3 linked regions of the Homo sapiens genome follow. The protein of the gene in region 2 binds, or shares a complex with, the protein of the main gene of each other region. Each region holds a gene or a part of one and is shown on either strand. Other genes may lie near its edges.

Region 1 (10,432 bases), on a different chromosome or scaffold from region 2:
AGGTTTGGACACCTTTGCTGGGTTGTTTGAATGCCGTGGCTGCAGCGCCCTGTTATGGACATCATGTGCGTGCAGAATGGATGTCTGTCAGGTTCCGGGGCAGCCCGCAGTCTGAGGCAGCCAGCCTGGATTGGAGGGAGTGGCAATACTACCTGCCGGTTAGGGGTTTGGGCCTGAGAGCGAGTGGCTTTCAGGTTCTCTCAAGCTTCGGATGAGATGCAGGTTTCTGCTTCCGATGGCAAATGCATGTTTTGCTTTTTAGTTATCACTGCAAGAGCTAGGATGCTGCTAGAATATTACTGGAATGATTGTGATGAGATGGAATGTATTTACAGTTTAATTGTGACATGTAATACAGTGGTAGAATGGGACTCTGGAATGAGATGCTGGGGCCTAGATTCTAGCACTTCCTTTGTGAGGCTCTAACCCCCTCTCCTATAGTGGATTTGTTAAGAACTTCTGTTTTTGTGGCTTTGTTATTATAAAATTTTTTGAAATGTTGTTCTCTAAAAAAGTTATGATTTTATGTTTTTCTTCATGAGATTCTTTCACTGCCTTCCAGCTGCAAGTAGAATGACGTCTAAATCTTTGTGATCTGTCACTGAAGCCCTTGAGTGAGACACTTAAATCTGGCTGTGGCTCTCTCTCTTACTAGCTTATTTCCAAGCCGTGATTTTTCACAACAGAAAAATGGGGACAGTAATAGTAGTTTCTTCAGAGGCTTTTAGTGAAATGAGGTTAAAAAATATTTTTATGTTTATATGGATATATAGATTACAAACATTTATATATCATTTATTTATATGATTATTATAAACACATATTTATATTTAAATACTTTGGGGCATAAATATATAAAATAATAAATATACTTATGTAATACAAATAGACTTATATACATTTACTATTTAGCAGAGATTATATAAAATATATGTATTACATGGCAACATATTCAAATTTACATATGTTATATATACATGTGGAAAAAAAATTGGGAAAAGGCCACAAAATGTGACCAAAGAATTACTTCCAAATGGCAAGTTTTTAAGTAATTTTTATTTTCTTTTTATACTTCTCTGTACTTTCTCTATGAAACAAGTGTTACTTTTACTGTTTTTAGGAACCAAAAATACAAGTACATTGTTTAAAAAATACTAGCTTAACAAAGTTTCTAGCCCATAAGCTAGTGCAGAAAATCTAGGTCCCATAAAACAAGAACTGCCACACGATGTCTCTCCCCTTACAGTGCTGGATGGCCCGTTGTTAATGGTGTCATAAATCCTTTGCAAGTGACTGTTTTCTAGGTACTATGACTAGAGGGATGTGTAACTTAAGCAAAAAACAAAAAACAGAAAAGGCTGACTATCATCTGACAGTGTATCCTGGAACACCTAGGCCAGAGAAGAAGCCACGTTAGCATTTTCCCTTCTAAATGTCAGTTATGATTTGATGGGGAAACCACTTAAAAAGCATTGTCACGTTGTTGAAAAGGTAATGAAATGAGTGAGATGAGATGGCTATGGAGGACGGAGCTATGCGCCAATCTTATTATATCCAAATTCATGTCATCTCAGCCTTGGATTGTATTGATTTTTATTATATACTGTCAGAAAATGCTATTGAATGTGTAACAAGAGCCTCAAAAAGGTTTATTCATTTTGACACCATAATACTACTTTTAGGAAATTATTCTAAGAAAATAATTAGAGGTATTCTTAAAGATTTGCGTTTTAAAGTCATCCTAAATGTAATCAGGAACTGGCTATGTAAATTATAGCCCATCTCTAAGATTAAGTGCCTTACAGATATTAAAACCCATGCTGTAGAAGAAAAACTAAAGACAGGAAAGTACTTACAATACAAGATGTACTTACCAGTGGAAAAATCCACTTATACTACAGAAATATGATGTGTTCAAATATAAGGAAAAATGTGTATGCATAAAATATTTGGTAGGAAAGAGTAAAATATTACTGGGCATTTATATTTGGATGGTGGAATTATACATAATTTTAATTTTCCTTTTTATCTTTTCTGTATTGTCTAAAATGAATACACTAAGCATTGTTATCCTCAGAAAAAAATAATTGAGGGATGGGGGAAAGGAAGTCCTGCTTTCATTTGATTCTTTGGTTGGTTTTATTCTGTAAGATGAGACTTTAACAGAGGTTAGAATGCATTAAAAATTGTAAAGACAGTTGACCTAATGGCACTAAACAGGGTTAGATCTAGTTTAGATCTTTTCCAGCATGTGAATAAGAATGGATCTTTAAATAAAGATTTTAACTAGGTATATGTTTTAGAATAAGTCATACATGTACATGGTAAAAATTCAAACAGTACAAACTGTGCAGCAAGGTATGGGAAATAAAGCAGCTCTCACTGTCACCTCCACCCATCAGCCTTCTCACACTGCACGCCCACATCTGTGTGTAATTCTGCTTTTCTTTAACATTACTGAAGGAACTTCCTGTGCATTTTTTGTCAGAGCTCTTCTGTGAATACACAAAATATGTACTGATCAATACATTATGTAGATCACGCAGGCTCAACCACATTGATCTTCCTATTCTTTCTAGTAGCCAAATAGAGTTCCCTGGAATATGATTAATAGCTTGCCTAAATCTTCTAATGCTGATAAACAGTTGTTTCTGCTCTTTCGTTATTTCAAGGAATGCTACCATGAATAGCCTTATATATGGTTTTGAGTATACTTGTTTAAGTGAATGTAGGAAAAACTCTTGGAAGTTAAATTGTGGGCCAGTTTATGTGAATTTTATATTTTGACAGAGATGGCTAAATTACCCACCTGTTTTTTTGTTTTGTTTTGGTTTTGGTTTTGCTTTTTTTTTTTAAGAGTTGGGGTCTTGCTACCTGGGGTCTTGCCACCTGGGGTCTTGCCCAGGGTAGACCTGAACTCCTGGGCCACGTTGGTTTATTTTACTGCATTCCCAGGGCCTAGAGCAACGATTGACACGTGCTAGCAGTATCTATTGGAAATTCTGGCCAACTTGCAATAGACCTGATTATTTCTACACTGAACATGTCTAAGATAGCTATTACTATTCATTCAGGAAAGCCCAGACAATTATCATGCCAGCAGCCTGAGACAGTAGCCAGTAATAGCCTGGTGTGGTAGTTTGCTCCTGTAGTCTCAGCTACTCAGCAGGCTGAGGTGGGAGGATGGCTCTAGCCTGGGAGGTGGAGGTTGCAATGAGCCAAGATTGCGCCCTGCACTCCAGCCTGGGTGACAGAGTGAGACCCTGTCTCAAAAATAAAAATAAGAATAAAAAATAAACCAGCAAAAGTTTCTGCCCTCACAGAGCTTCCATTCTAGTGAGAGGGTAGTTTGTCATCAGGAGGGTGACGCCGGTAGGGCTGGGGGCCAGCTCCCTGCAGGGAACAAACATGATCGCAGTGGGGTGGGAGTAGGGGATGAGTCCCCAGAGCCTCTGTGGTTTCCATTTCCACACAAAAAAACCACTGCTGCTGTAATCAGGAGGGGGAAAAGATTTTTAAAAATTTTCTTTCAGGGAATGGAAGGAAAGGATATTTTTGAAAGTAAGACTTTGAAAACTAAAAGTTTTGGGTCACTTAAAAACTCAAAATCTTTAGGTCACTTTAAAAATATTTAATCTTGGAGCTGGAGGCCATTATTCTAGGTAATTAGCTGGGTGTGGTGGTGTGTCCCTGTAATCCCAACTACTAGGAGGCCGAGGCAGGAGGATTGCTTGAACCTGGGAGGCGGAGGTTGCAGTGAGCCGAGATCGCGACACTGCACTCCAGCTTGGGTGACAGAGCAAGACTGGGTCTCAAAAGAAAAAAAAAAAACGAAAACTAAATACCGTATGTTCTCACTTAAAAGTGGGAGCTAAGCTATGAGGATGCAAAGACATACAGAGGGATATAATGGACTTTGGGGATTGATGGTGGGGTTGAATGGGAGGTTGGTCCTAATAGGTCCTAGTACGTCCCCTACTTCTAAGTCTTCCAGTCTGTCCTTTGCACTTTGAATGTTAATTCCAAGTTGGATAATGTCATTCTCATTTTTACAGTCCTTTCTTAGCTCCTCATCACCTCCAGGACAAAGCCTAAACCCCTCGCCCCATGGTAATGCGGCCCCTTTGTGACATGGTACCTGGCTAGAGCTTCATCCCTTTGTCCCATCACTCTCCATCCCAGACACTTTGTAGTTACTTTATTGAGCTCCTTGTGCCTGCCTGAATGGACTTGAAAGTTCTTACCTCCATCTTTTACATTAATTGTTTCCTGTAAGAATTGTGCTTTCTCGCATTCTCCCCAAAATCCCTTCCCCATAGGAAGCCCTTCTCCCAGGCTAAGTTAAGGTTTCTTCCTCTACATCCCTACCACACTCTGGTCACAACCCTCTAACCATTGGCTTGTTTTTTTTGTTTTTTGTGTTTTTTTTTTTTTTGTGAGACGGAGTCTTGCCCTGTCACCCAGGCTGGAGTGCAGTGGTGCAATCTCCGCTCACTGCAACCTCCACCTCCTGGGTTCAAGCGATTCTCCTGCCCCAGCCTCCTGAGTAGCTGGGATTACAGGCACGTGCCTCCACACCTGGCTAATTTTTGCACTTTTAGTAGAGACGGGGTTTCACCATGTTAGTCAGGCTGGTCTCAAACTCCTGACCTCGTGATCCGCCTGCCTTGGCCTCCCAAAGTGTTGGGATTAGAGGCGTGAGCCACCGCGCCCAGCCCATTGGCTTGTTTGTATGTCTACCTTCCTAAACAGTAAGAGGGAACTTGTCTGGTGTTCTTTTTTTCTCTCCTGTGCTGACAGCACAATGACCAGTACCTAGTAGTTGCAGTAGCCTTTGATGAACAAGCCAGCAAATGGTACTTTTCTTCCTTATCTGAACATACCATTTATTTTGACTTAGATTATATTCTCCTGCCTTTTAAAAAGATGGACTTCAGCAGAAATCTTTATGATATTGGGGAACAACTGGACAGTGAAGATCTGGCCTCCCTCAAGTTCCTGAGCCTGGACTACATTCCGCAAAGGAAGCAAGAACCCATCAAGGATGCCTTGATGTTATTCCAGAGACTCCAGGAAAAGAGAATGTTGGAGGAAAGCAATCTGTCCTTCCTGAAGGAGCTGCTCTTCCGAATTAATAGACTGGATTTGCTGATTACCTACCTAAACACTAGAAAGGAGGAGATGGAAAGGGAACTTCAGACACCAGGCAGGGCTCAAATTTCTGCCTACAGGTGGGTGGAAACTCCCATTGTGGGACTGGGAGGTGTGGGTTGAATGGACAGCCTCTGAGCTGATTGGGGCTTTTTTTTGTGGTACCCTGCCTAGTGCCTGGGAACCCAGCAGTGCCACAATTCTAAGCTTCTACAGAAAGACAGTAGTGCCTTGGGTGGTCCTGCTAAAGGCTGTAAAACTTAGCTTCTCCCCACCCTAGAGAGAGTGGGTAAACAAAGGCGTGAGAGAGAAACCACATTCAGTATCACTTGGGAGGCTTTGGGAAGATGTCCCACCGGAGCCAGATTAAGAAATTTAGGGGCCTTATATATAATTCTATAGAAATGCTAAGACCATAAAATAAAAATTTATTTTTCAAAGTGAAACATTACTTAGAGGTATGCTGAAGTTATAATAGAGTTTTTCTAAGTGTTCTCATTTTTTTCCTCTCTTATCTTGATGCCTCTCGATATCCAGATTGTGTGCTTACTTTGCCCATCCATTGAGTAAAGCATCATGGCTTCCCACCCTGAAATCCCCCTCCCACCTGCTTGCGGATGGCTATGAAAATTTTCAATGAGATTTAAGGGTTTTCTGCCACACTTAAAGACTCGAATGACTAAGTTCTTTACGGAGCTGTAAGCCGCTGGCCTGGCACATACAGCTAGGCAGTCTCCACCGAGGCTGCCCAGTTCCTGTGAGCCCGGCTGTATGACAGTTCTAAGCTTCTATAGGAAGACAGTGGCACGTTGGGTCATCCTGCCAAAGGCTGTAAAACTCAGCTTCTCCCCACCCTAGGGAGAGTGGGTAACCAAAGGTGTGAGAGAGAAACCCCATTCAGTTACAACTTCATGATGCTGTGACAAGACTTTAAAAACAGAAACACATTGTCACTTTCTCTCTTTCAACATCTCCTATTATCGGACACTACTTAAAGCAATTTTAGCTTTGCTTTCAGGAAACTTCTACTGAAGTCTTCGTTCTGGGCCCATTTCATTGTCTCTGTTTGCTTGTTGATAACTATGGCATGTGAGATGGAAAGGGTTCACAACCAGGGCTGACAGCTGCTGTCCTCTGATGGCTCAGCCCATGAATGCTCTGGTCTTTCTATTCTCAGAGACTATTTTTTGTTTTGAGGCTTGACTATTTTTTGTTTTGTTTTGTTTTGTTTTTGAGACGGAGTCTCGCTTCATCACCCAGGCTAGAGTGCAGTGGCATGATCTCGGCTCACTGCAACATCTACCTCCAGGGTTCAAGTGATTCTTCTGCCTCAGCCTCCTGAGTAGCTGGGATTACAGGTGTGTGCCACCATGCCCAGCTAATTTTGTATTTTTAGTAGGACGGAGTTCCACCATGTTGGCCAGGCTGGTCTCGAACTCCTGACCTTAAGTTATCCACCAGCCTTGACCTCTCAAAGTGCTGGGATTATAGGTGTGAGCCACCATGCCCAGCCAAGGCTTGACCATTTTGATTTTAAGTGAAAAAAGAGATATTCTGGGCCGGGTGAGGTGGCTCACGCCTGTAATCCCAGCACTTTGGGATGCTGAGGAGAGCTGATCACCTGAGGTCAGGAGTTCAAGACTAGCCTGGCCAACATGGTGAAACCTCATCTCTACTAAAAATACAAAAATTAGCTGGGTGTGGCGGCTCACGCCTGTAATCCCAGCTACTTGGGAGGCTGAGGCAGGAGAATTGCTTGAACCCAGGAGGTGGAGGTTGCAGTAAGCTGAGATTATGCCATTGCACTCCAGCCTGGGCAACAAGAGTGAAACTCTGTCTCAAAAAAAAAAAGAAAGAGATATTCTGGGTATATAAGTTTCCTAGGGCTGCTGTAACAAAGTAACACAAACTAGCAGGTTTAAAACAGTTTTTAAAATGTGTTTTCACAGTTCTGGAGGCCTGAGTCAGAAGTCAAGATGCCAACAGTGTTGGTTCCCTTTTAAGAGGCTCCGAGGAATAATCTTTTTCATGCCTTTCCCTGCTTCGGGTGGGTGGAGGAATCCTCAGTGCTCCTTGTCTTGTAGATGAGGCACAGCAGTCTCTGCCTATGTTCCCTTCTCTGTGTCTAAATCTCCCTCTTATGAGACAGTCACTGGATTAGGAATTAGGGCCCACCTAATCCAGTATGGCCTCATCTTTGTGTGTGTGTGTGTGTGTGTGTGTGTGTGTGTGTGTGTGTGTGTGTGAGACAGTGTCTCACTACATCGCCCAAGCTGGAGTGCAGTGGCATGATCTCGGCTCAGTGCAACCTCCACCTCCTGGGTTCAAGCAATCCTCCCACCTCAGCCTCCCAAGTAGCTGGGACTACAGGCACCCGCCACCATGTCTGGCTAATTTTTGTATTTTTTTGTAGAGATGGAGTTTCAAAATGTTGCCCAGGCTAGTCTTGAACTCCTGGGCTCATGCAATCTGCCCACCTCAGCCTCCCAAGTTCTGGGATTACGGGCATGAGCCACTGCGCCTGGCCAGCATGACCTCATCTTAATGAGATTTTATCTGCAAACGTCCTGGGTCCACATAAGGTCGCATTCTCATATTCCAGATAGACATGAATTTTGGGGAAGAGGGGAGAACACTATTCAACCAGTACACTAGATAGCTTTGGTTTACTAGCATTGTGAAGTCTTTATAAGGCACTTATTCATTAAGGCGCCAGTTAGTCCTAAAAACCCACAGCCCCAGAACAAGGAAAGCCGAGGGGGGTCTCATCTTGTGCCCACCATCTTGGTCCTTTGAAGGTTCCACTTCTGCCGCATGAGCTGGGCTGAAGCAAACAGCCAGTGCCAGACACAGTCTGTACCTTTCTGGCGGAGGGTCGATCATCTATTAATAAGGCAGGATCTCTCTTAAAATCTTTAATGTATTGGCTTAGAGATAAAAGGGTCCGGGCAATCCTGACTTACTGCTTGTTCATTATCATTGAATACTAGCCAGAAGCTAATAAATATGCTAGGGTGACCACTTACCATTATAAGAAAACACTAGACATTTTATTTTCCAGTTATAATTGCTACCTATAAAATAAAGATCTTATAAACTATTCAGGTTCATTACTAAATGGTGATGGTACAAGAAAGCCTATAGGCTTCAATAATGAGGAAAGCAAAAGGGTAAATACCTTGTAATAAAGGTGAAAGAGTCAGAGTAGCTTTGGATTAGATCCAATTTTGGCCAAACTGAAAGCTTTAGATAAACACTTCTAGGGTAGAGAGTCCATGAGAAGGGGGATAAGGCAGATGGTAATACTGAGTAATTTCTGTTTCTACGCCATTTTTATTTTCAGAATTTTACTTTTCTAATTAAATTTTAAAGTCAACGTGTTTTTGTATTAAAATTATTTTCCTTTACACCATAGTATTGAAAGGTTTGCTGACTTCTAAAACATTCCTTTGTTCACCTATTCGACAAGCATATTCCAAGAGCCTAAATGTGCCAATCACATAAATGTGATAGGCATAGATTAGGAAATAGTAACACCTATCACTCATTGAGCACTTAGTGTGTTGCCAAAGACTGATTTAAGTACTTCACATAAACTTATTTGTGTAACCCTCGAAACCTTCCTATGATGTGGTTACGGATAATTATCTTCAGTCTATGGACGAGGAAAAAATGTGTAACATGTCTAAAGTTAACACTGCTCAAAGATAGTGGAACCAAGGCTCCAACACCAATAGCCTGGGTCCGCTGAGCTCAATCATTGCACCTCACAACCCTCTGGGTTTATGAAAATAAAAAGGGTACGGACCTGGCCACTAGGGGACTTGAACAGTTTCTAAACAGACAATTATTTTCTGTTTTTATTTTTAGTGTGGTGGCATGATCACAGCTCACTGCAGCCTCAACCTTCTGGGCTCAAGTGATCCTCTCACCTCAGCTTCTGGAGTAGCTGGGACCACAGGTGCATGCCACCACACCCGGCTAATTTTTAAATGTTTTTGGTAGAGATGGGGTCTTGCTATGTTGCCCAGGCTGGTCTCAAACCCCTGGGCTCAAGTGATCCTCCTTCTGCCTTGGCCTCCTAATGCGCTGGAATTAGAGGCATGAACCACTGCACCAGGCCAACAGACAATTATGTGTGTTATCGTTTTGGGGTTACTAAGTCATAGTGGAGTGAATGCAGCTTTGAGGATGCTCAGGCAATGCTTGAGCTGATTGTTCATGGATGGGCCTCTGCAGATAGACAAGGGGATGGGGTGTAGCGGCACCACAGAAAGGGGTGAGGGCAGGGCAGCTGGGTGTGTTTGGCTTCAGGTCCTTTCGTGTTTGCGGTCTGGTCTGTGATAGGGATGTATTCGGAGACTTTGTATTCCAGAACCGAATGCTTGGCCGTCTTACTGAAGATAATGACTGGGAGAATACTGACCAGTTTTGATTAGGGAAGTCATGAGCCAATGTGCATTTTGAAAAGCATAATTTCCAAAAGGCAAAGCATTTTGCTATTGCAACAAAATCTCCATTTTACAGAAAAAAAAAAAGGAAAACAAGATTTACTCAACTGAAATAAACTGAAAGAAAAGTTGATAGAACTTTAAATTGTTAAGGGTGGGAAAGTCGGGGAGGAGCCAGTAGACTTCTGTGTCACCACACCAGCCTCTTTCCAAGGGCTCAACTCATAAACCATGCCATTAACTGGCTTTATGTTGAAGGGAGGCCTTTGGAATCAAGCCCACTGTGACTCCATATATCAAATGGGAAATTATTTGGGAAAAGATTTCTAAAGTGTCTCCATTTCCCACCACAGGGTCATGCTCTATCAGATTTCAGAAGAAGTGAGCAGATCAGAATTGAGGTCTTTTAAGTTTCTTTTGCAAGAGGAAATCTCCAAATGCAAACTGGATGATGACATGGTAAGACCTGGTATCTTACTGAGATTTAGTCCTGAGACTTGGTTAGCCAGGGGGCATTTCTGAGACCAAAGAGAGGGGTATTTTGGTAAAAGCAACCTGGATTCTCACTTTTTAACTAGAAGAAGAAAGTTGTCAGCACGAGTGTTACAGATGTGATTCCTTTAGACCGAAGTGCTGCTCATGTTAATTATTGGGAGCAAGGCAGAGTCAGAGGCCGGGAGAAGGAGGCTGTGCAGATGCAGCCCAGACCCGGCAGAGCTGGGAAAGACTGCGGTGGGTCTGAGATATTTCCTCCACTTCTGCAGTCCCCGAAACAACCTGGGACCTGAAACTCTGTGTGTATATTGTGTCTGTGTGTTGTGTGTGTATTT
Region 2 (10,432 bases):
TGGCAAAACCCTGTCTCTACTAAAAATACAAAAATTAGCCAGGTGTGGTGGCGGGTCCCTGTAATCCCAGCTACGCGGGAGGCTGAGGCAGGAGAATGGCTTGAACCCAGGAGGCGGTAGTTGCAGTGAGCCGAGATTGCCACTTACACTCTATCCTGGGCGACAGAGGGAGACTCTGTATCAAAAAAAAAAATAAATAAAGAAATGGGGAATACTGCAGCTCTTCTATTCACAAAAAGTGAAGACTAGGCTTGTTTAAAATGAAATTTGGAGTGTATCATTATTACTGATAAAATAGCAAAAATGATAACTTTTAATACTCATTTTCCTCTGTCTGAACTATACTGAGCCTCAGAGATATGTTGTACTTTCTGGAATGTGAATATTAATGAGTATTAAGAAAAGCTCTTAAACAGCCTCTTTCAAACTGGGCAGCTTACTTTTTGGTGCTTATTAATCTATAACGTGTTAACATCCATATGATCTGGGAATTTGAAGAAAATACTTAATTTCCCATGCTTTAGTTGGATATTACATTCTGGCAAAAAAGGTTGACTGTATTAATCTGTAGAACATTGATTTTGAACCATATATTTCAAAAATACATGAGCCGTGTATTTTTATTTTTGAGACAGAGTCTTGCTCTGTCACCCAGGCTGGAGTGCAGTGGCGCGATCGCGGCTTAATGTAACCTTCGCCTCCCGGGTTCAAGCAGTTCTCCTGCCTCAGCCTCCCAAGAAGCTGGGATTGTAGGCATGCACTACCATGCCTGGCTAATTTTTGTATTTTTAGTAGAGACAGGGCTTCACCACGTTGGCCAATCTGGTCTCAAACTCTTGGCAATCTGCCCTCCTTGGCCTCCCAAAGTGCTGGGATTACAGGCATGAGCCCCTGCACCTCACCTTCCTGTATTTAAAAAGTTTATTCTGTACTTTCTCCGTGTTTCTGACTGTCGCACATTTATTTAATATAGATGAGTAAGGCTGTAAGGGTGGGTCTTTGCATCTGGATTTTTCCGAAGACAGATTATTTGCTATCTAGAGAAGTAGCATGTATTAGTGAGCCAATAGTGAAAGTTTGAATGAAGGGACAAATATTTCATTCCAGGATCCTACCACTTTAGGTGAATCACTTAGCTCCAAATCTTAGTTTCTTTATTTGCAAATTGAAATCATGATAAAATTTGCTTCAGGGGTTATGATGCTTGTTTAAACTCTGTTTCAATTCTTGTCTCTTGCTGGTCCTTAAGTCTCTTCCTTGCTCAGAGCTTTTGTTTATCCAGGCAAAGCATCAGGCTGCTGTAATCAAGGAAGTTGGAGAAATCCTCTGGTCACTTGGATAGCTGAGCAAAATCAGAATTCTGTTAGTGGGAAGAAAGGGGGCAATGGCAGGTGGGCAACCAGCATTTTCTGCCATTCTCTTGTTATGTGTGGTCATCATAGAAAAATGGGGAAAAAGTTAATTAGAATATTTTGATATGTATACTTACCCTGCCTTAGAAGGTAATCGTGAAATTCCTTGAGATTTCACATTAATTTCAATAGAAACAAATTCACTGTCCTGAGTCCCTGAATTAATATTTATGCAAAACATTTACAAATTCCTTCAAATGGACGTAATTATTAGTTAAAATTATTTGCTATAACAGGCCAGCATGTCTTTGTCACTCTGTGTCATGGCTTTGTAATAATATGGTTATGCAGTATGGCCATATAAGCTGCCTAAATTCACTGTTTTTGTATATCCTTCAACTACTCACAAGGCCTTCCTAAGATATTCAGTGCTCATAAAGTTGAATCTTTCATGTGGAAAAAAGAGGGGTGGATAGGAAAAACAAAAGAAATCACTGAACACCATGCAGAAGATGCAGAAGATTAACAGACTAAACTAGCAAACCGCAAGACTGTAAGGAGAACTGACTTGGGTCAGGAGCTAAGCTCCCAAAGTCCAGTGGACCCAACTAGAGGCCTTCCCAAACTCCACCGCACACAGCAGCACCTGCAGGTCCTAGTTGGTCTTGACAAATTTGAGGAGATGTGGCTGAGACTGAAGAAGAGATACCAAATAGGACTCCTCATAAAGTAGAAACCTTTTACTCAAAAGGGCATTTTTCAGGGCATGTTGTAGTTCCTGCCTGTTTCTTTACTGTCTGTGACCTTTTTTAAATATTATTAAACATTCTTTCACAACATCGCTTTTGCAAACTGCTAGATATATTTCAGTGTTGATGGGCATAACTGATTCTCTCCTCTGTACATGCTAAGTGTTTTACCTACTTTTGCTGTTCTATGTAATGCTACCAGGAACAGCTTTGCACATAATCTTTATCAGCATCTCTGATTTGATCCCTCAGAGTAAAGAAATACTGAGTCAAGGAATTATTCCTTTCAAAAAAATAATTTTAATTTTACATTTAATTCATGTCTATTGTGGAAAATTTGGAAAACATAGTAAAAGTGTAAAGAAGAAAGTAAAAATCAACCTATCATCAAGATACAATCCTTGTTAACATTTTGGTGTCTTTATGTCTTTTTTATCTGTACTTATATCTTTATCTATTTACATATATATATATATAAAACACACACAAATGTGAATATAATTTTTACAGATTTATTCGTCAAAAACAATTTTGAATGGCTATATAATATTCTGTTAGGAGTGTGCCGTAATTCATTTAACAATATTTTTATTTTTATTTTTTTGGACAATTAAATAGTTCTCTTTTTAAAATAGTTATTCAATTGATGATGGGCCGGCATACGTTGGGTTCTGCTAGGCTCTGGAGATGGTGCACAAGACAAGTTTCCTGCCTTCTGTGAACTTCATGAGAAATAATTCTCAATTACAGTACTGTCTTACCTATGGAAGTGTCTAATGGGAAGACTTAGGATGGCTTCCTTGACAAAATGACAGTTCTCTGACACCTAACCAGGCAAGAAGTTGGAAGAATATGGCCTAAGAGGGTGGGGCGGATGACCCTTATGGAATGGGGAAGGCTTCACAGTTCTGCCTGCTCCAGTGATGTGTAGTGAATGAAAAAGGAGGCCTAAAATCAATGTTATCTTTTATGCCCTCTGTCTCCACCCGCTCCTACCTCATTCTCACTAGGATTGGTCAGTAGGGCCCTGCTGACAGAGTGATCCCAGCTGAGAATGTTGGCATTCTCAAAGCCCAAGGAAACAACACCCGTGTGGATAAACACATGTGGGCGGCTGGGCCAACCATAGCTAGAGACATAAAGCAGGCAACAAACGTGTTTTCACAAATATATACATATGTACATATATACGCATATACAAATATATACATATACGTATATACACATAGACAAATATAGCTATATATCTACATATACAATATATGCATACACACATACAAATATGTGTATATATACACACATATACATTTTTATATCATATATTATATATTACATATATACATATACAAATATATGTATATTTATACGTATACATACATGAACGTATACTTTTTTTTTCTCATAATCCTTACCACTTCTGTGAGGTGGTCATTATTGTTTCACTTTGCAGATGAGGAAACTGAGGCATAAGTAAGTGCCCCAAGGTCACAGGTTGGTGAGTCACAGAGCTAGAGTTCACGCTCATAGTGGAGGGCCCGTGCTCTCGGAGCTATGGCTCCTGGTCTCTTACCTCACGCGTGTGCCTCACCCCACCCCTCAGTCTTCAGGCCTTCATCTAGGCAGCCCCCCGCCTCCACCCACTGCCCACGTCCCACCGATGTAGTTGTTTCCTGAGGCACTTCTCTTGTTTGGTAATGTCTTATGTCCTAGGAAAGAAGGCCCATAGGTGCTGCTGTATGAGCTTCCTCCGCTAGACAGAGCTGGCCCCAGCCTTTAGATGAGGTGTAGAAGGCTGGTTACCCGGGTCACCTGTAGCCGGCCACTGTGCAACACCATGGGCAGCCTAGGAGTTTCCAGAGTCCCCTCTCCCCAAGGTATTTCTTTTTTCATTTTTTAACTCCCTGCCCTCCAACATTTTATTATGAAAAACACCAAGTCTGAAGGTTACGTCCACCACGACTATCGTCTTAACACCGCTTGCTTCATCGTGTAATTCTCCATCTCCTTTCCCGTCATCTGTCCGTCATTGTCTGACTTTTTGATGTATTTCCAAGTACACATCAGTACACATCTCGAAATACTTCAGCATGCATACCATAGCTAGAGTTCAATATGTTTACAGGTTTGTCTTTTGATGTAAAATTTACCTGCTGTTGTTGGGAGTACATCTGCTGAGTATGGGCAGATGCGTATGCCTGCAACCCTAGCCCCCGTTGATATCCTACAACATTATCATCACCCCAGAAAGTTCCTTCATGCCCCTGCCCACTCAGCCTCACCGTGCTCACAGGCGGCCAGTGTTCTTTTTCTGACACAGATTGGTTTTGACTTCTGAACCGTCATATAAATAGAATTACATAGTATGTATGCTTTTGTATAAGGCGACTTTCACTTATCACGTTTTTGCATTTCGTTCATGCGGTTTTCATTCATGTGTATCAGTAGTTCATTTTTATTGCTGAGTAGTATCCCATCGTGTTCATACACCAGTGTGTTCACTCATTCTCTTACTGATGGGCAGCTGTTTCCAGTTTGGAGCTATTATAAATAAAGTTGCTATGAACATTTTACAAGTGTTTTCCAACATACGTTTTCATTTCTCTTGGGATTGGAATTGCTGGGTCATAGTGCAGGTGTTTGTGGTTTTATAAACAAAATAAATGCCTATGAAATTTCAATGAATATTTTATGCCCCAGAAAGAGTATTTTTCATGGTCTGTATCTGGATGTAGATATTTATTATTTTATTTTATTTTAATTTTTTTGAGACAGAGTCTCACTTTGTTGCCCAAGCTGGAGTGCAGTGAGTGGCATGCGATCTCGGCTCACTGCAACCTCCGCCTCCCAAATTTAAGCAATTCTCCTGCCTCAGCCTCCTGAGTAGCTGGGATTAGAGGCGCGTGCCACCACGCCTGGCTGATTTTTGTATTTTTAGTAGAGACGGGGTTTCACCATGTTGGCCAGGCTGGTCTTGAACTCCTGACCTCGTGATCCGCCCGCCTCAGCCTCCCAAAGTGCTGGGATTACAGACGTGAGCCACGGCGCCCAGCCGGGATGTGGGTATTTCTGGAATACAAAACATCCATAGCCCTCCTTTTACTCTCAAAGCAAAACACAGACACGCACATTCACATGCACACACCAGTGTGTCCGTGTCCTGTTGGTTTGCATGGAGTTTCTGTTTTGCCACGAAGCTTTTTGCCAGCCCTTTTCCCAAAGTGTTTGTACCATTTTATACTCCCACCAGTGATGTTTGAGAGGTCTGGTTGCTTCACATGTTTGCCAGTGTTTGGTGTATTAGTCTTTTTAGTTTTGGATATCCTGGTAGTTGTGTAGTGGTGTCTCCTTGTGGTTCTCCATGGGTTTTTATTCTATATTTCAGTTTGGGGAAAATGAATGAATGGAAGAAAAGAAGGGAGGAAGGATGAAGCAAATAGCTGTGCTTTGAGATCTGACACTGTATACTTCACAGCCCTGATGGACATTCTCCAAATTCTACTCCTTTTTCACATTTTCTTCTTAGAGTTTGCATTGTTCTTTTTATATTCTTCAGATTCCTTCTTTTGTTCATAATTACTTAAACCTATTCATTTTCTAATGCCTTTCAGTTGTTAATTTACTGAAGTTCTTTGGTGCTTACTAGTGCTGCTTGCTGTAGCTGCAGGGTCTGTCTCACAGTGAATTTTTTCTTTTGTGTTTTATAATTTTGGAAAGGGAGCTCATGTTAAATTTGTATTTGTAGGAATTCTGTCTGGCCTGGCTTGAGGTTGTTGTTTGCTTTAGCCTATAACCTCAGGATGGCATCAGCCTGTGACCACTTCCTGTGTAAAAGTTCATAGTTTAGGCGATCCTCTCAATTCAAAGTCTGTATCTATTTCAAGACAGGCCCAAGGTTATAAATTTGCACAAACTTTTTTTTTTTTTTTTTAATACCTTGTGCCCAGTCCAAGACAAATATGTTTGTTTGCCATGGGCTGCTTTTTTTCTAGTTCATCCTTTCATCAAAGGGTTGCACATTGAGCAGTGCCGTGTTAAGGGGGGATTCTTCATTCTACCTTCTTTTCTTGTATTCCTTGACCTCAGCTGGGCTTTAAACCTTGACTTCTGGATGGCGAGGTTGGCACTCCCCTGTGTGAGCTACTGCCTGCCTCCGGTGCTCTGTTTCTGTCCCTAGAGTTCTTTTCCTTTCCACGGAGTTTTGGTATGCATTTCAATGAATGTTTGTATTATGTTGTCCAACATACTTGTGTCCTTTATAGCTGGAGGGTTCTTAAAATTTTCTAATGCTCCATATTGCCAGAAATAAAAAGGCTGAGGGAATAAATATTATAGTCTTCTCTGATTCTTAAAAATATGAAAAATAGCTCATCAGATGACTGTAAGTCTATCCTCAGAAATCCAAGGCACACCAAGCATGTGGTGGAATGTTAACAAAAGTTTTTAAAAATGATCTTTTCTGCCAGGTACAATGGCTCACACCTGTAATCTCAGCACTTTGGGAGGCTGAGGTGGGAGGATCCCTTGATCTTAGGAGTTTGAGACCAGCCTGGGCAACATAGTGAGATCCCCCGGCCCCCCCATCTCTACAAATAATTAAAAAATCAGCTGGTCACGGTGGGGTGCACCTGTGGTCCCAGCTACTCAAGGAGGCTGAGGGAGGAGGATTGCCTGAGCCCAGGAGGTCGAGGCTCCAGTGAGCTATGATTGTGCCACTGCACTCCAGCCTGACTGACAAAGTGAGACCCTGTCTCCAAAGGAGAAAAAAAAAAACATATATATATATATATATATATATATAGTCTTGCCCTGAGGTTTTCTCTCTGTTTTCTTTACAGGGTACAGCTCTGCCGGGGGGGGAAAAAGTGGTACCATTTTGGGCGTTCTTGAGCTTCAGAATGCAACCAGACATGTCCTTGAATGTCATTAAGATGAAATCCAGTGACTTCCTGGAGAGTGCAGAACTGGACAGCGGAGGCTTTGGGAAGGTGTCTCTGTGTTTCCACAGAACCCAGGGACTCATGATCATGAAAACAGTGTACAAGGGGCCCAACTGCATTGAGTGAGTAGGGAGCAGGGGTGGGTGGGCTAAGTTCTGAGCGGGATGGGGACGTTGGCTGTTGTGGAGCCGTTGGCTGCTGCGGAGCCGTTGGTGGGTAGAGTGAGAGGGAGCCTGCCAAGATGTCAGGGTGACGATGGCTCTTCGGATTGTTATTGTCGCTGATGTGGACTCTGAGACTGGGTAGTGAAGGACTCTCACAGCTGGTAAGTAACAGAAGAGACATGAACAAGAAGGAAATAGAGAAAGACAAAGAGATAAGTGTGGTGGGGGGACAATGAAAAGGAAACAGGAGGATGGGTGAAGACAGACCTATTCACTCGCTTCACATTTTCAGTGAGGACCAGCCCTAAGTATAAAAATGAAAAGGCAGTTCATTCCTGAGAGGTTCTGAGAGCCTTCCCTTTAAAGCAACCAGTAGAGTGGTTTCACCTCTCTCCCTCCTTTGTCAGAGTGGTTTTGAGAGAGGCTGTTTTTTTTTTTTTTAATCGTTCTGTCCAGCACGGTCTTTTTTCAGGTTACCTTGCTGCTGTTCATGTACTTTTCATTCATTGATTCATTCATTCCTTCATTGATTTACATTTTTGGAGCATGCACTGCCAGTTACTGGGCAGGAGTACTGTGAGGAAGTGAGAAACCGCTCTGCCTTCTAACGCTTCTGGCCTGTGCCTGGAAGAGATCGGTACAGACCCAAGCATGACCCCAGCACGTGGGAGTGATGTGTTGGAGGTGTGCACCAGGCTCTTGAGGCGCTGGCTCTGCCAGCCTCAGCATAGCACCTTTCCTGCCCACAGGCACAACGAGGCCCTCTTGGAGGAGGCGAAGATGATGAACAGACTGAGACACAGCCGGGTGGTGAAGCTCCTGGGCGTCATCATAGAGGAAGGGAAGTACTCCCTGGTGATGGAGTACATGGAGAAGGGCAACCTGATGCACGTGCTGAAAGCCGAGGTAGAGAGGGCCCCTCCGCACGGGGATCCCCAGCGCTTGGGCCCTGGCTGTCTGTTATGGCTCCCCTTGGGGTGTTTGTTTGCAGCTCGTTAGCATCAAATTTGCAAATTGCTTGGTAGTTTGAATTTTCTTTTCCTTTTTTTATAGAGACAAGGTCTTGCTATGTTGCCCAGGCTGAACTCCAACACCTGGTCTCAAGTGATCCTCCCACCTCAGCCTCTCAAGTAGCTGGGATTACAGGCTGGATTTCCTGAAGTCAGTTTCTCCTTAAAACATCTATGCCTTGATTGGGCTCCGTGGGTCACTTCTGTAATCTCAGCACTTTTGGCAGGAGGATCACTTGAGCCTTGGTGCTCAAGACCAGCCTGGATAACACAGTGAAATCCCCTCTCTACAAAAAATAAAAGGTGCATGTGAACAGAGCAAGACCCTGTCTCTGAAAAAAAGAGAAAATCTTCCTTGCCTTTTACTGCCCTGAGAGTGGTCTCTTCATCCTCTCGATCCTGTGGACAGTCCTCCATAGTCTGTGTCTTAGGAATGTGATTGGCTGTTTACCATACCTGTCCGCTGCTCTGCAATCTACAGTTCAGAGACAAGCCCTGTCTTCATGATGCAGACATCATCTGATGTAGAGTATATGCATGATGGGATGACATTAAATATGGATTAATGAAAGGATATACACTATAAATGACCGTGAGAGCAGATAGAATATTAGTGGTTGCACTTTGATACCATTCAACAAAGTTTTATTTTAAATTAAATATAGAAATTATTGGCAACAACACTGGATAGGATTTAAAACAAAAATAAAAATTGTTTACCAAAGTCAAATGATTTGAAAACATTTTTAAAAGCTTATGTGCCTGTTAAGATGAAGGCCTTGCGCTAGTTGCTCATGAATCAATAGCTAATATGACGTAGGAGAGTAAAAGGAGGCAGATAGCTAAATAAGTGGTATGGTGTGATGGGGTTTTTTTTTTTTCTTTTGTAAGAGAACAAGGTCTCACTGTGTTGCCCAGGCTGGAGTGCAGTGGCACAATCATAGTGCACTGCAGGCTTGAACTCCTGGCCTTAAATGATCCTCTCACCTCAGCCTCCTGAGTAGCTGGGACTATGGGCATGAGCCACTGCACCCAGCTGTGTGGTGGTATTTTTTTTTTTAGAGGAGTCTCGCTCTGTCGCCCAGGCTGGAGTGCAATGGTGCAATCTCGGCTCACTGCAACCTCCACCTCCCTGGTTCAAGCAACTCTCCTGCCTCAGCCTCTTGAGTAGCTGGGATTACAGGCGCCTACCACCATGCCTGGCTATTTTTTTAATTTTTAGTAGAGACAAGTTTTCACCATGTTGGTCAGGCTGGTCTCGAACTCCTGACCTCGTGATCCGACTGCCTTGGCCTCCCGAAGTTCTGGGATTACAGGCATGAGCCACCGTTCCCAGCTGATGGTGTTTTGATAGACATACTCATTGCTGAGGGAGTACACATGAGAGGCACCCACTCAGCCTGGAATAGACAGAAAAGGCTTCCAATGTGAAGGACATGTAGACGTTTTGAAGCAGAGAATTAGAGAACAAGTGTTCTAGGCAGAGAGAATACCATGTAGAGACTGCCAAATTTGGGGAACTGTAAATTCCTGGGTTTGGCTAGAGCATAGATTGCACAGGGTATGGGGAGGGGTGGCGGGATATGGCTGCCTTTATGGCAAATACTCCCACTTTTCCACTTTCTTCTCCCACCCCACAATTGCCAAGCCAACAGACATCTCACAAAAATACCCTTGGGAAGGAGAAGAGGTGATCACTTATACGCATGGTATTATAGTTTGATCAGATTGCTCTCCACCCCAGAACTAGAGAAGATCAGCTGTTTGAAGTAAACATTTTGATTGGGAAATAAGTCTTTGGTCTCCCATCCAAGTACTAACCAGGCCCAACCCTGCTTAGCTTCTGAGATGAGAGAGAAATCATTGGGGACATGAGGCATTGTGCAAGATGAGGGAAAGTTCAGGTGCACCTGTTTGGACTCAGTCAGGGCATCAGGAGGACCTGAGAGAGAAGCAGAAAGAGAGGAGAGAGGGGGACCAACTTTGCTTACTCAGAAGTTTTTCCTAAGTCCAAAGGTATACCAAGGAAGAAGAGAAAACATCTTTTCTGCTACTTTCTGTATGGTGGTGATCAAGCTATTAACAGTGTAGCTCTGCTACGTTATGTCATAAATATGGTTTGAGGGGGAATCTCACTTCTATCATTAAAATTTTTTTCCTGTTAACCAACGACCAAAATACATATACATTTTTAGGAAACATCTTGTTTGTATACTGATT
Region 3 (11,154 bases), on a different chromosome or scaffold from region 2:
CATGTTTATTGACTCCTGGGGGACAGGTCACAAAGTCAGTTTGTGGGCAGGCCAGACTGCCCTAGAAGGAAGTCAGGGGCCTCAAGGGGTGGCACTCTTCCTTAACTCGTAACTCTTGGAGGCAAGCTTGGAAGGTGCTTTATTTCCCGCTATGATTATACCAACCCTGTGGCCTGCTCCAGGCTTCAGGATCTTTAGGGCCTTCTTGCGAACCTACTGGTGGGGGGTGCTGCAAGCCCCTCCCCTTGCCCGAAGGTGCCAAGCCCCATGTGGGCAAGGCAGTTGTCTGTTGCATAGTCAAGTAGTTGTTGTCTCCAACTTGCACCCCAGAGCAGTTGTATATGTTAACGAGCGGTCGCCCTTTAAGAGAAATAGTGATGGTGGCAGGAGGGTTTAGCTGTCAGAAAGGCCAAGTTGGGGGTGGGTGGGGAGTATGAAGTCTCTACTTGTCAGTGGCTGTGTCAAGGTGTGCCCTGTGCTCCTCCCCTCAGAGCTCCTCTCCAGAATTGTGTTAGCAGAAGCTCTAGAGAGTGGCAATTGACATTTGAGACCCTGATCTTTTTTGCTGGGAGGTCCTCTGGACTGCTGAAACAATGGAACTTAGGGGGCTCACAGAGCTGGTGTTGTGGAAAGTTAGAAGATTCAGGGACAAATCCAAGCTTTGTTGTGTGACCTCAGAGGGCTCCTTTCTCAGGGGGTGTCGGTTTTCCCATTTATGAAATGAGAAGGTTGAGTTAGATCATCTTCTCCCCTCCCCTCCACAAAGTACCCTGAATCTAGATATAGGTCTGGAGGAGGAGTCTGGTGGAAGAATTGAACAGGGAAAAGAAAGAGGTAGAGAATGGGTACCTGTTACTGGATTTGGCTCCGGGGTCCTGCAGGACCAGTTCATGCCTTGTCTCTCAGCCCCCTGCAAACAGCACAGAGCATCCAGTTCTGCCCTGGAGCCTGGCACTCCCACTGCACTCCTCTCAGCCCCAAGTTTTCGCTGGCAAGGGGACAGCATTTATAGGACTCTTAGTGCATCCCCTAATCCTGTCAATGTCTCACCTGATTCCCTCGGGGTCCAGGACTTGGTGTTCCAGTTGAGGTAGGGCTGGGCATCTGGTTTCTGAAAGTTGAGGTCTCTGGAGTCTGGGGAGGTTGGGCCATCGAATCTGAAGATGTGCCTGCTGTCCAGGCTTGTGGAACCTGCTCCTCTTGTGCCCTGCTCCTCTTGGTAAGGCTCGGGCATTTTTTAGGAACAGAGCTGGGAGGCTCCTCTAGATTCAGTTTGTTTAGCCACTCAGAAACCATGACATCATTACGAGAGTGCTGGTTTTCTATGGTTCTCCTAAAGCCATCCATTTCTGTCCCTCCTTGGCCTGACTCTGGGATAGAAAATCTCCTATTGCTGCTCCTGAGCTGAGACAGGAAATCCTTTACCTGCAGGGATGGGAGGAGTTTGCTGGGTATGACTTGGATGAGCCAGAGTAAACCCAAGGGAGTAGTCTCTCGGTCCATAATCTGTTGTCTGGGAACTCAGGGGTGGGCTGGGGACGGTGGGTACAAAGGTCAAGGCATAAAAAGCAGTGGTCAGTGGTGAGTCATTGGATGGCCAGGTAGCCACGCTGTGCCATCCCTGACCAGCTCCTGGGGAGGGGTGATGTTGGCACTCACCGTGGAGACAGCAGCATTCATATTGTTCTCCACCATCTGGAAGACTTCATCAGTTTTTGGTAGGCATTCTAGAGGGACAGCAGAGTGGAGTGCAGGTGAGCAAATCTTCTTTTCCTGAGAAAAGCCCCCTGCTGACAGACCCAAGCTTATCCTAGATCCAGCTAACTGGCCAGCTCACCCTGGAAGGAGGGTCTGTCCTTGGGCTCACTGCTCCAGCAGAGCTGCATTAGCTCCTTCAGTCCTTCTAAGCCGGGAGTCTCAGGCCCGGCTTGGGGCAGCTCAGCCAATGAAGGCCGGTTCTGCCTGTTGCACACTGCTTCGTACACGAGTGATGGTTCGGTTGGCACTGGAGTAGGGGAGGAGGGTGAGAAGAGAAGGCATTCAGGGTAAAAGGGAATTATCTGCTTCATCATGGAAAGAGGCAGGGAGTGTAATGTGGGGGCACGAGGAGGGAGGAGGGCAGTCTAAGTAGGTGAGCGGGAAGGGGAAGCCTTGGGGCTTTCAAGAGAAGGGCACCTGGGGTTAAGGATCCCAGAATCCTCCTAGAGTCTTACACTCAACTTCTCTTCCAGCAAGCACTGCCCACATTAGGATCCCGAAGCTGCAGGAGACACAAAGCTGAGGATCGGTCCAATCACTGGCAAGACTCCTTTCCTATACATCATCCCCTGGGAGGGCCCAGAGAAGTGTAGGAATCCTGGCTGTGTGTTTGGGCCGGGATCCTTACCTGTAGACGTCACTGGCTGTGGAGGCCTTCCGGTTTACGTTAACAAACAGTTCTGGGGCCAAGTAGCCCAGGGTGCCCCCTGGCTCCCCGGACCCTGTCCCTGACTGTGAGCCTCCCTGAAATGTGGACAGGCCAAAATCTGCCAGCTGCAAAGGAAGGAAAGAAGTGGGAGGTAGGGAAGACAAGGGGGCCAGAGAGCCTCCAGGAACCCCCCTGCCCCCAGAAGGTGCAGGTTCAGCTTTGTAAAGGGAGTGTGGAGGTCAAGGGAAGAGGTTCCCTTGGATGGTAGATCTAGGTGCCTTGTGGTAGGGCTAGGTCAAGGTCTGAGTCTCCAGGGCTGGGTCAGCCATGACTCTTTGGAGGGGCTGGTGGGGCAGCTGGTGGAAATGACTCGTGTGGCTCAGGGCCTCTATCACCTGGTAGGCAGGAGCTAAAACTCCTGGCTGGGCTTTGTCCCCTGGCAGCCCTGTGTCCAGAGAGAGAGGCTACGCCTATTCAATAGACAGGGCTCTGGAGGTCTAGTGTCCGGCGGGCCTGGCTGGAGCAGCTCTGGGGCCTTGTCTTGAGGCTGAGAGGGGTGTAGACCAGCTGACCTTGACGTGCAGCTCTGGGTCCAGCAGGACGTTGGATGGCTTGAGGTCCCGGTGCAGGAGCACCGGGTTCTGGTCGTGCAGGTAAAACATCCCAAGCACCACTTCTTTCAGCAGGCGGCAAAGGAGCGGCCAGGGCCGAGGGCACTGGGACTGCAGCAGCCCCGACAAGGAGCCGTTCTCCATGAATTTAGTCACCAGAGCCGGCTTGGGATCTTGGTCCCAGTTCACCTTCTCGATAACCCCTTCTAGGCGCAGCACGAATTCGTTATCCAGACTTGCCATGGCCTTGACCTCCCTGGATATCGCCTTCCTACACTCCAGGAGAGAGCTGGAGTCGCACCGGGGTCGTGGGAAAATCCCTCCCTTCGCCATTCAGGCCCCAGAGCACAGTGGCTCCACCTTTTTGGCCAGATTGCGGCTGGGGTCAACCGGGGTCACTCACGAGTTTACGATCTTGACCGCCACATCGTAGCCCCACTTCCTATGTTGCGCCCGGAACACTGTGCCGAACCCGCCTTTGCCGACGAGCTCCTGGTTCTCCAGTTCCTCGATGGACACCAAGGGGGCGGGGGCACCGCTGGGCCTGAGAGAGGGGTGTCGCCCACTAGCCGGCCGTGCCGTGCCTCAGCGCTGCTCCCCGCGCCCCTGTGACTCGGCGTTCTCACTGCAATCCCCAGCCTCCCTCGCCGGCCCCCACCGTCCCCGGACTCAAAGACGTTCTCTGAGCGAGTCTGTGGGGCTCTCTGGGTGTGAATGTCGGAGGCTGCGATCGACATGCCACTCCCTACTCACCATAACTTGACGCACGACATCAGGCTGGAAGGTGCCAGGGGGCCTCTGGAAATTGCGAGCCGTAGGAGATGGAGTGACTTCTGGGGCTTGGTCCTTTCGCAGAGAGGGGAAGGGGTCTGTCTGTGCAGGGGTCAGTCTCTAGACCAAGACGGTGAGTCTACTTTCCGGGTTGTTACCCTTTTTCCGAGTTGACTGAACAACTTCCCTTATAGGCGCCTCTACAGTCCCGCCCCTGGGGTGGGGCAGGGGGCAGAGCGAAAGCTAGTGCCTTTCTCCTTGACTAGCGTTTCCTGAGCACCTGCCGCAGCCAGATTAGGTGTTGCTGGGCATTGAGGATGTTAGGGAAGGAGTCCTCACCTTCCAGGAACCCACAATCAACCCACTCCTACAGTCAAAGCCTTCCCTTTTCCCACAGGATTTCCTGCTCCACGACCTGCCAGGCCATGAGTGGAGATGGTGCTTAGGAGGGTTTTATGGTTCTAGGGCTCAGCTCTCTCACAGCTGCCCTAAGATCATAGCCAACACGTATATAAAACTTATCATGCACCAGGTATATATATTAGCTTATTTAATTCTCACACGAACCCTAAGGGGATAGGTACTGCTTTTATTACCTTTCTATAGGTGAGGAAACTGAGACACTGAGAGTTTAAGTACCTTGCCTAAGCCCATATGGAAATAATGGCTCTGAACCATCAAGTTATCCTGTTTTCACATAGGCTTCAGGGCTGTACCACTCAGCTGGTCGTGCAGGTGGCTGGGAAAGGTGTGAAGCATCCAACAATGTAGTGAAGGATCCCTATCTGTATTCCTGCCCAGTCCCTATAGCTGCTCTTGCGAGGCAAGTCTTTGGCATTGATAGGGACTTATATGCCCTTTGAACAGGAGCTCCTGGAGGTGGCAGGCCCCAAGCCCACTCCCAGGGCATTGTGGTAAGGCTAGATTTATCAGCCCATCCAGAGGGTTGGTGACATTGTGGTGTACACTACAGTGGAAACACCTCAGAGCTTTCCTGCCCTCTCCCTTGCATGACAACTCTTGCATGCAAATACCCTAATTAATGTTCCTGACAAGCACATGCTCTGGACACAGTCTTTTGATAACCCAGAAGCATGGAGAGTCTTAAAGATTTAGGGCAGAAAAAAGGTGTCCATATTTTACCTTTCTGAGGTCTGACCATGACTGGAGGTTGTGGGAACCCGATAGGGCCTGCCCTAGGCACTCAATCCTTCACAGGGATACTCAATCCTGTGGGTTGTGCGTTGGCTCTCACTAAAGGTGCTCACCTTGGTACTTGCTTTCCATTTTGTTCAGTGGTCCATGGGCTCTGCTGGTTGAGGCAGAAGTGATCTGTAGTTTTTTCTAAAACAACTCTTGGAGAGCCACACCATGGCTTCTAGCAGGGTCAGTTCATGCTATTTTGGAACTATTTAGGGAATTGTTCAACCGTAGTCTCCTTAAAAGCCAATACATGGCAGATACCCAATAAATATTTGTTGAATTGAATGAATAAATGAACAACCCAAAATATCGAGCCTTTCTTAAGGCACTGATCATCCTAGATGGAGCTCCATACTCAGTAGGAGGAAAGAGGTGATTGGGTTCCTGTAGGGACTGAGGGCTCTCACCTGCACAGTTCATGAAATCCATCTGAAGTAGGCTTTAGTATAGAGATATGGTGGTATCACACAGAATCCAAGAAGGCAAGAAGTGTAGCAGGTCCTCAGAAAAGCCTAGAGTCAGAAGCTGAGAGCCATCAAAAGGGGCAGCCACTCCCTTTGTGATTCTTTTTAGAGAGAATAACCCAGGCTCAGTATCTCCACTTGAAGGGAACAGGCAGAAAGGATTTGGAAAGGTGTTATAACTGGGTTTCTTCAGATTGTGACGAGACCCTGAGAATGAGGGATAAACCACTGTGAAGCACAAAGTTGGGTGTGGTATCAGGGCCTATACTACTTTTTGACTCAAAATAAACAGCCTCTTTAAAAGAAGGAAGAGCAGGGAGAAGAACCTTAGACTAAGTGCCTAACAGGACCCTCAGCTTCCAGCAAGGGGGTATGGGGGTGGACCTAGGCAGAGGCTGATTCTTGGAATTCTGAGCTCTGGTCTTTTCTGAGGACTGATGCCTCTGACCACAGATGTCCCATGCTTTTGGAGCCTACTTGGGTATTTCTTTTTTTAAATTAAATGAAATTTTTTTTTGAGATGGAGTCTTGCTCTGTTGCCCAGGCTGGAGTGCAGTGGTGTGGTCTTGGCTCACTGCAACCTCCGCCTCCCGGGTTCAAGCGATTCTCCTGCCTCAGCCTCCTGAGTAGCTAGGATTACAGGCATGTGTCACCATGCCTGGCTAATTTTTTTTTTTTTTTTTTTTGAGATGGAGTTTCACATTTGCTGCCCAGGCTGTAGTGCAATGGCGCAATCTCAGCTCACCACAACCTCTGCCTCCTGGGTTCAAGCAATTCTGTCTCAGCCTCCCGAGTAGCTGGGATTGCAGACATGCACCACCACGCCCAGCTACTAATTTTTGTATTTTTAGTAGAGACGGGGTTTCACCATGTTGGCCAGGCTAGTCTCGAACTCCTGACCTTGTGATCCACCTGCCTTGGCCTCCCAAAGTGCTGGGATTACAGGTGTGAGCCACCACGTCCAGCCTTACTTGGATATTTCTTATTCCTTCAGTTCCCTGCTCCTGATTGTCTCTAATTACATTCAGTTCATCTCTCCTGTGAGCTCTGGTTCCCTCTCCCTAATTGTTGTAGGGGTAGCGGGTTGTGGGGGATCTATGTGGTCTCCTTGCATATTCTAGTCTTAATTCTTATCCGTTGTTTGATTAAGAGATTCTAATTACAGACCAAATGGTATTAATTGAGGTGACAGTCCCGGCCAGGACTAATTTTTTAAAAAGATCTGCTACCAGTAATTCCACCCCTGAGTATATCCTAAAAGAATTGAGGCCAGGCACAGTGGCTCATGTCTGTAATCCCAGTACTTTGGGAGGCCGAGGCTGGCGGATCACTTGAGGTCAGGAGTTTGAGACCAGCCTGGCCAACATGGTGAAATCCCATCTGTACTAAAAATACAAAAATTAGCCAGGCATGGTGGCATGTGCTTGTAATCCCACCTACTCAGGAGTCTGAGGCAGGAGAATCGCTTTAACTCAGGAGTCAGAGGTTGCAGTGAGCGAAGATCACACCACTGCACTCCAGCCTGGGGGACAGAGCAAGACTCTGTCTCAAAAAATAAAAATAAAAATAAAAAAAAAGAATAGGAAACATGGATTCAAATAGATAACTGTACACCAATGTTCATAGCAGCATTATTCGCAACAGCCAAAAGGTGAAAACAACCTAAATGTCCATCAATAAGTGAATGGATCGGTCCAATACAAACTGTTGTATATACATACCATACAATATAATTCAGCCTTAAAAATATGATTTAACCTTAATAAAATTCAGACACATGCTATAATGTGGATGAATCTTGAAGATATTATGGTAAGTAAAATAAGCCAGTCACAAAAGGACACATATCGTATGATTTCACTTATAAGAGGTACCTAGAATAGTCAAATTCATAGAGATGAAAGTAGAATGGTGGTTTGTAGGGGCTGAGGGAAGAGAATGGAGAGTTACTGTTTAGTGAGTACAGAGTTTAATTTGGGAAGATGAAAGGTTCTAACGATGTAGTAATGGTTATACAATGAAGTCAATGTACCTGATGCCACAAAACTGTACACTTAAAGGGTTAAAATAATAAATTTTGTGCTATGTGTATTTTACCACAAAAGGATCTGCTAAAAATATGATTCTAGTATTAGAAAGGGACATATGAAAATTTATATTAATAAACATTTAGCTGTTTGATTTAACATCAGATTTCACCGCGAAGAAAGAATGTATGTATGTATACGTATATATGCTTAGAAAAATATATGAATGGACAAATAGAAAAATGTTTAAAGGAATTATTCCTGGCTGATGGGCTTATAGGTGATTTTTATGTTCTTATATTTTATAATCATATCTTTTTCTTAGTGTGTGTGCTGCTGAGGTGAGTACTTATAGTCTTATTTTTATCTGCATTTTCTAATTTTCCTGAAATGAGTTCATGAAATGAGTGTAGTAATTCTACAGTTCAGCTTCCTCTTTGTCTCCAAGACATGCCCAGAGATGTAGCAGCTTCCCTCTCCCACCTGCCACTACCCTAGCCCGTCAGTCTATTATTTGCTGCTCCCTCCTGATTTCTTGTAATTGTAAGTAGCCTGCTGGTCACTTTGGTATTTAATGGATGTTATTAGGTCTTGGAGTTTCAATATGGTAAGATTTTGACAGACATAACGTGATAGAGGTGATTCCACTCAGAGAGCATGTTCTGAGTCAAGGGTAAAGTCTACAGTGTGAACTTTCATGAGTCCAACTGCCAGACTGGCTGAGTGGCCTTTCCCTCCCCGCCCCCACCAGCAACAATGATAACAACTGGTCTTTTCCACATGTGATGGTTCACAAAGCACTTTCACAGTAAATCCTCACAATCAAGGGAGGTTGGACTTACTGTCTAAGGTTTACAGAATAAAAAGTTCTCATTTTTTGTCTGGAGGTGAATAGTAAACATAGAGTGATAAGAAATCTCTTATTTATTTATTTATTTATTTATTTATTTATTTATTTATTTATTTTGACACGGAGTCTCACTCTGTCATCCAGACTGGAGTGCAGTGGCATGATCTCGGCTCACTGCAAACTCCACCTCCCGGGTTCAAGCAATTCTCCTGCCTCAGACTCCTGAGTAGCTGAGATTACAGGCGCTCACCACCATGCCCTGCTAATTTTTATATTTTTAGCAGAGATGGGGTTTCACCATGTTGGTCAGGCTGGTCTTGAACTCCTGACCTCGTGATCTGCCCACCTCGGTCTCCTAAAGTGCTGGGATTACAGGGGTGAGCCATCGCGCCCGGCAATAAGAAACCTCTTTTTACTGTGGCAGTGCGGATTCCCGTCTGCCCCCTTCCTTCCACCCCCTGCCGACTCAGGGATGCTCCAGCTCATGGGGGAACCCTTATCCCAGCTACTGAAAACAAACCCTCCACACATGGGGAAAGGTTGCAACTATGTGCAAAAGAACTGTCACTTTTGGGGACTGAGCTATACTCAACTCAGGAAAGTCACCAAACAAACCCCAGGTTTGAGAGAGAAGAGTAATGGGGAGAACTTTCCACTTGGATAGGGACTCCATTCACTGTGGCACCCGCCTCTCCCTATCCTTGAGATGCTTTCTTTTGGGGAGCCTCCTCCAGGGCCCAAGTATTGCTCTTCTCCTTTAGGATTCCAAGCAGGTCTGAAGCCCCCTTTTACTTGCTTTTCCTTAGGAGAGCTGAGGGGCTGATGCTTTCACAAAGAACCACATACCTTTAGCTCTCCTATCCCACCTGCGCTCACCGTCCTAGCAAAATGGAATCCTTGTGCTTAATCTGTTTCCTCACACCGCATTTTGGATCTGCGTCCCAGAGCGTCTCTTTGGCAGAACTTAACGTACTTGTCTGTACCCTCAAGGAAGGGAGGCTGGGCAGGGTAACTATTTTGATTCTACATTACCATGGTGGGACCAAAAAGATTTTGGGCAGCTATAAGTTAAGCGTCCACACACATATAACCGTAATGCCCCTTCTGTCAGTGTGAGTCCTTCTCTCTTTCTTACTGTCTAGTTAATGTCAAAATATAATTTCTGTGCTCTCCCAGCTCCTCTCACCCCAGTGGAGCAGGCCACTGCTTCATGTTGCTTCCCTAGCTGGGTGTCCTGCTGTTTCTTTTTTTCTTTTCTTTTTTCTTTTTTTTGTTTGAGACGGAGCTTCGCTCTTGTTGCCCAGGCTGGGGTGCAATGGTGCGATCTTGGGTCACTGCAACCTCTGCCTCCTGGGTTCAAGCAATCCTCCTGCCTCAACCTCCCGAGTAGCTGGGATTACAGGCATGTACCACCACACCCAGCTATTCTTTTTTTTTTTGTATATTTAGTAGAGACGGGGTTTCTCCATGTTGGTCAGGCTGGTCTTGAGCTCCTGACCTCAGGTGAGTCCTGCTGTTTATTTACAGGGAGTAAAGTATAGCCTAACGGTCAAGGGTATAAGCTCTGGAGTCAGTCTACCTGGGGTTGATTTCTGCTCTGTCAATTACTGGCTGTTTGACCTTTAGCAAGTTACTCAACCTCTCTGAATTTTGGTTAATTATAGCACCTACTGGATTGAGTTGTTCTGAGGGTGAAATGAAATGAGGATGAAAGAACATAGCAAGGCTCAGCATGATAATAGGTTAGACCACAGGAGGCTGGGCATGGTGGCTCATGCCTGTAATCCCAGCACTTTGGGAGGCCGAGGCGGGTGGATCATGAGGTCAGGAGTTCACGACCAGCCTGGCCAACATACTGTAACCTCGTGTCTACTTAAAATACAAAAAAAAAAAAAAAAAAAAAAAAGCTGAGCATGGTGGTGGGTGCCTGTAGTCCCAGCTACTTGGGAGGCTGAGGCAGGAAAATTGCTTGGACCCAGGAGGTGGAGGTTGCAGTGAGCCGAGATTGAGCCACTGCACTCCAGCCTGGGTGACACAACGAGACTCTGTCTCAAAAAAAAAAAAAAAAAAAAGACAGATGGACAGAAAGAAAGAAAGAAGACCGCATAATTCCAGGCAAATATTATATGCCCAATAGGTGATAGGTATTATCACAATAAGCATTGCTGTGTTTCCAATATGAAGAACATATCTGGTTCACAATTTATTTGTAGAGCAGAGAAAATGGATTTAACTACTGTTCAATGAAATAGCTCCCTCTTCCTTCTCCTGAAAATTTCCAGCCCCACCCCTCCGTCCTAGGGCCTTTTTAACAACTCAGCCCTCAGGTCTCTCTCTTCTCTCCCAGACAACTGTTCTGAGGGAGTGACTGAGGAAGGCAGTGTGTCCCTCCCTGCCTGTGGTCTTGAGGAGAGAGGGCTTTAACCGAGGGTCTCTGGTTTCTCTGCTGAGAAGTATTGGATGTCTGTTGCCTGGTGCAAAGGTGCTCAACAAGGTTAAGAGGGTTATGTTGTTGGCGCAAGGATGGGCTTTGGGCCTGAGGCAGCCACTTGGGGTGCATTGGGCTGTGTGTCCTCAGGTTGCCTCTGATTTGAGCTGCATCTGTGGTGAGCCATCCCTTAACCCTGCCAGGATCCCATCCAAGAGGACTTGTCTCTGCCTTTCTCCCTCAGCTGAGAGAAGTGTGGGAGAGGAGAGTAGCATCAGTGCTCTGAGGGCAACCCTTAACCAATGGAGGGAACCAGCCAGTGCCCAGCCTCCTGTCCTTTCTGAGGTGTGTTCTGCAGTTCCTGAGGATCTGCTCTGAGCTCCACCTCAGTAG

What was found.
Region 1: RIPK1 (region 2) and CASP8 share a complex: the UniProt entries of both Homo sapiens proteins name them as parts of the AIM2 PANoptosome complex.
Region 3: RIPK1 (region 2) and RIPK3 share a complex: the UniProt entries of both Homo sapiens proteins name them as parts of the AIM2 PANoptosome complex.

The regions. Positions count from the first base shown.
Region 1 is NC_000002.12:201,261,561-201,271,992, forward strand, and holds part of CASP8 (caspase-8 isoform 2 precursor), read left to right. Parts: intron 1-4,900; coding exon of another isoform or gene 4,901-4,926; coding exon 4,927-5,231; intron 5,232-7,949; coding exon of another isoform or gene 7,950-8,045; intron 8,046-9,955; coding exon 9,956-10,061; intron 10,062-10,432. UniProt on the Homo sapiens protein: Thiol protease that plays a key role in programmed cell death by acting as a molecular switch for apoptosis, necroptosis and pyroptosis, and is required to prevent tissue damage during embryonic development and adulthood.
Region 2 is NC_000006.12:3,069,828-3,080,259, forward strand, and holds part of RIPK1 (receptor-interacting serine/threonine-protein kinase 1), read left to right. Parts: intron 1-3,811; exon of another isoform or gene 3,812-3,975; intron 3,976-6,936; coding exon of another isoform or gene 6,937-6,996; coding exon 6,997-7,160; intron 7,161-7,951; coding exon 7,952-8,108; intron 8,109-10,432. UniProt on the Homo sapiens protein: Serine-threonine kinase which is a key regulator of TNF-mediated apoptosis, necroptosis and inflammatory pathways.
Region 3 is NC_000014.9:24,336,036-24,347,189, forward strand, and holds the start of RIPK3 (receptor-interacting serine/threonine-protein kinase 3), read right to left. Parts: upstream 3,957-11,154; 5' UTR 3,792-3,956; coding exon 3,772-3,791; intron 3,563-3,771; coding exon 3,422-3,562; intron 3,290-3,421; coding exon 2,980-3,289; intron 2,533-2,979; coding exon 2,387-2,532; intron 2,261-2,386; coding exon 2,214-2,260; intron 2,006-2,213; coding exon 1,838-2,005; intron 1,728-1,837; coding exon 1,660-1,727; intron 1,426-1,659; coding exon 1,051-1,425; intron 911-1,050; coding exon 850-910; intron 361-849; coding exon 140-360; 3' UTR 1-139. UniProt on the Homo sapiens protein: Serine/threonine-protein kinase that activates necroptosis and apoptosis, two parallel forms of cell death. Necroptosis, a programmed cell death process in response to death-inducing TNF-alpha family members, is triggered by RIPK3 following activation by ZBP1.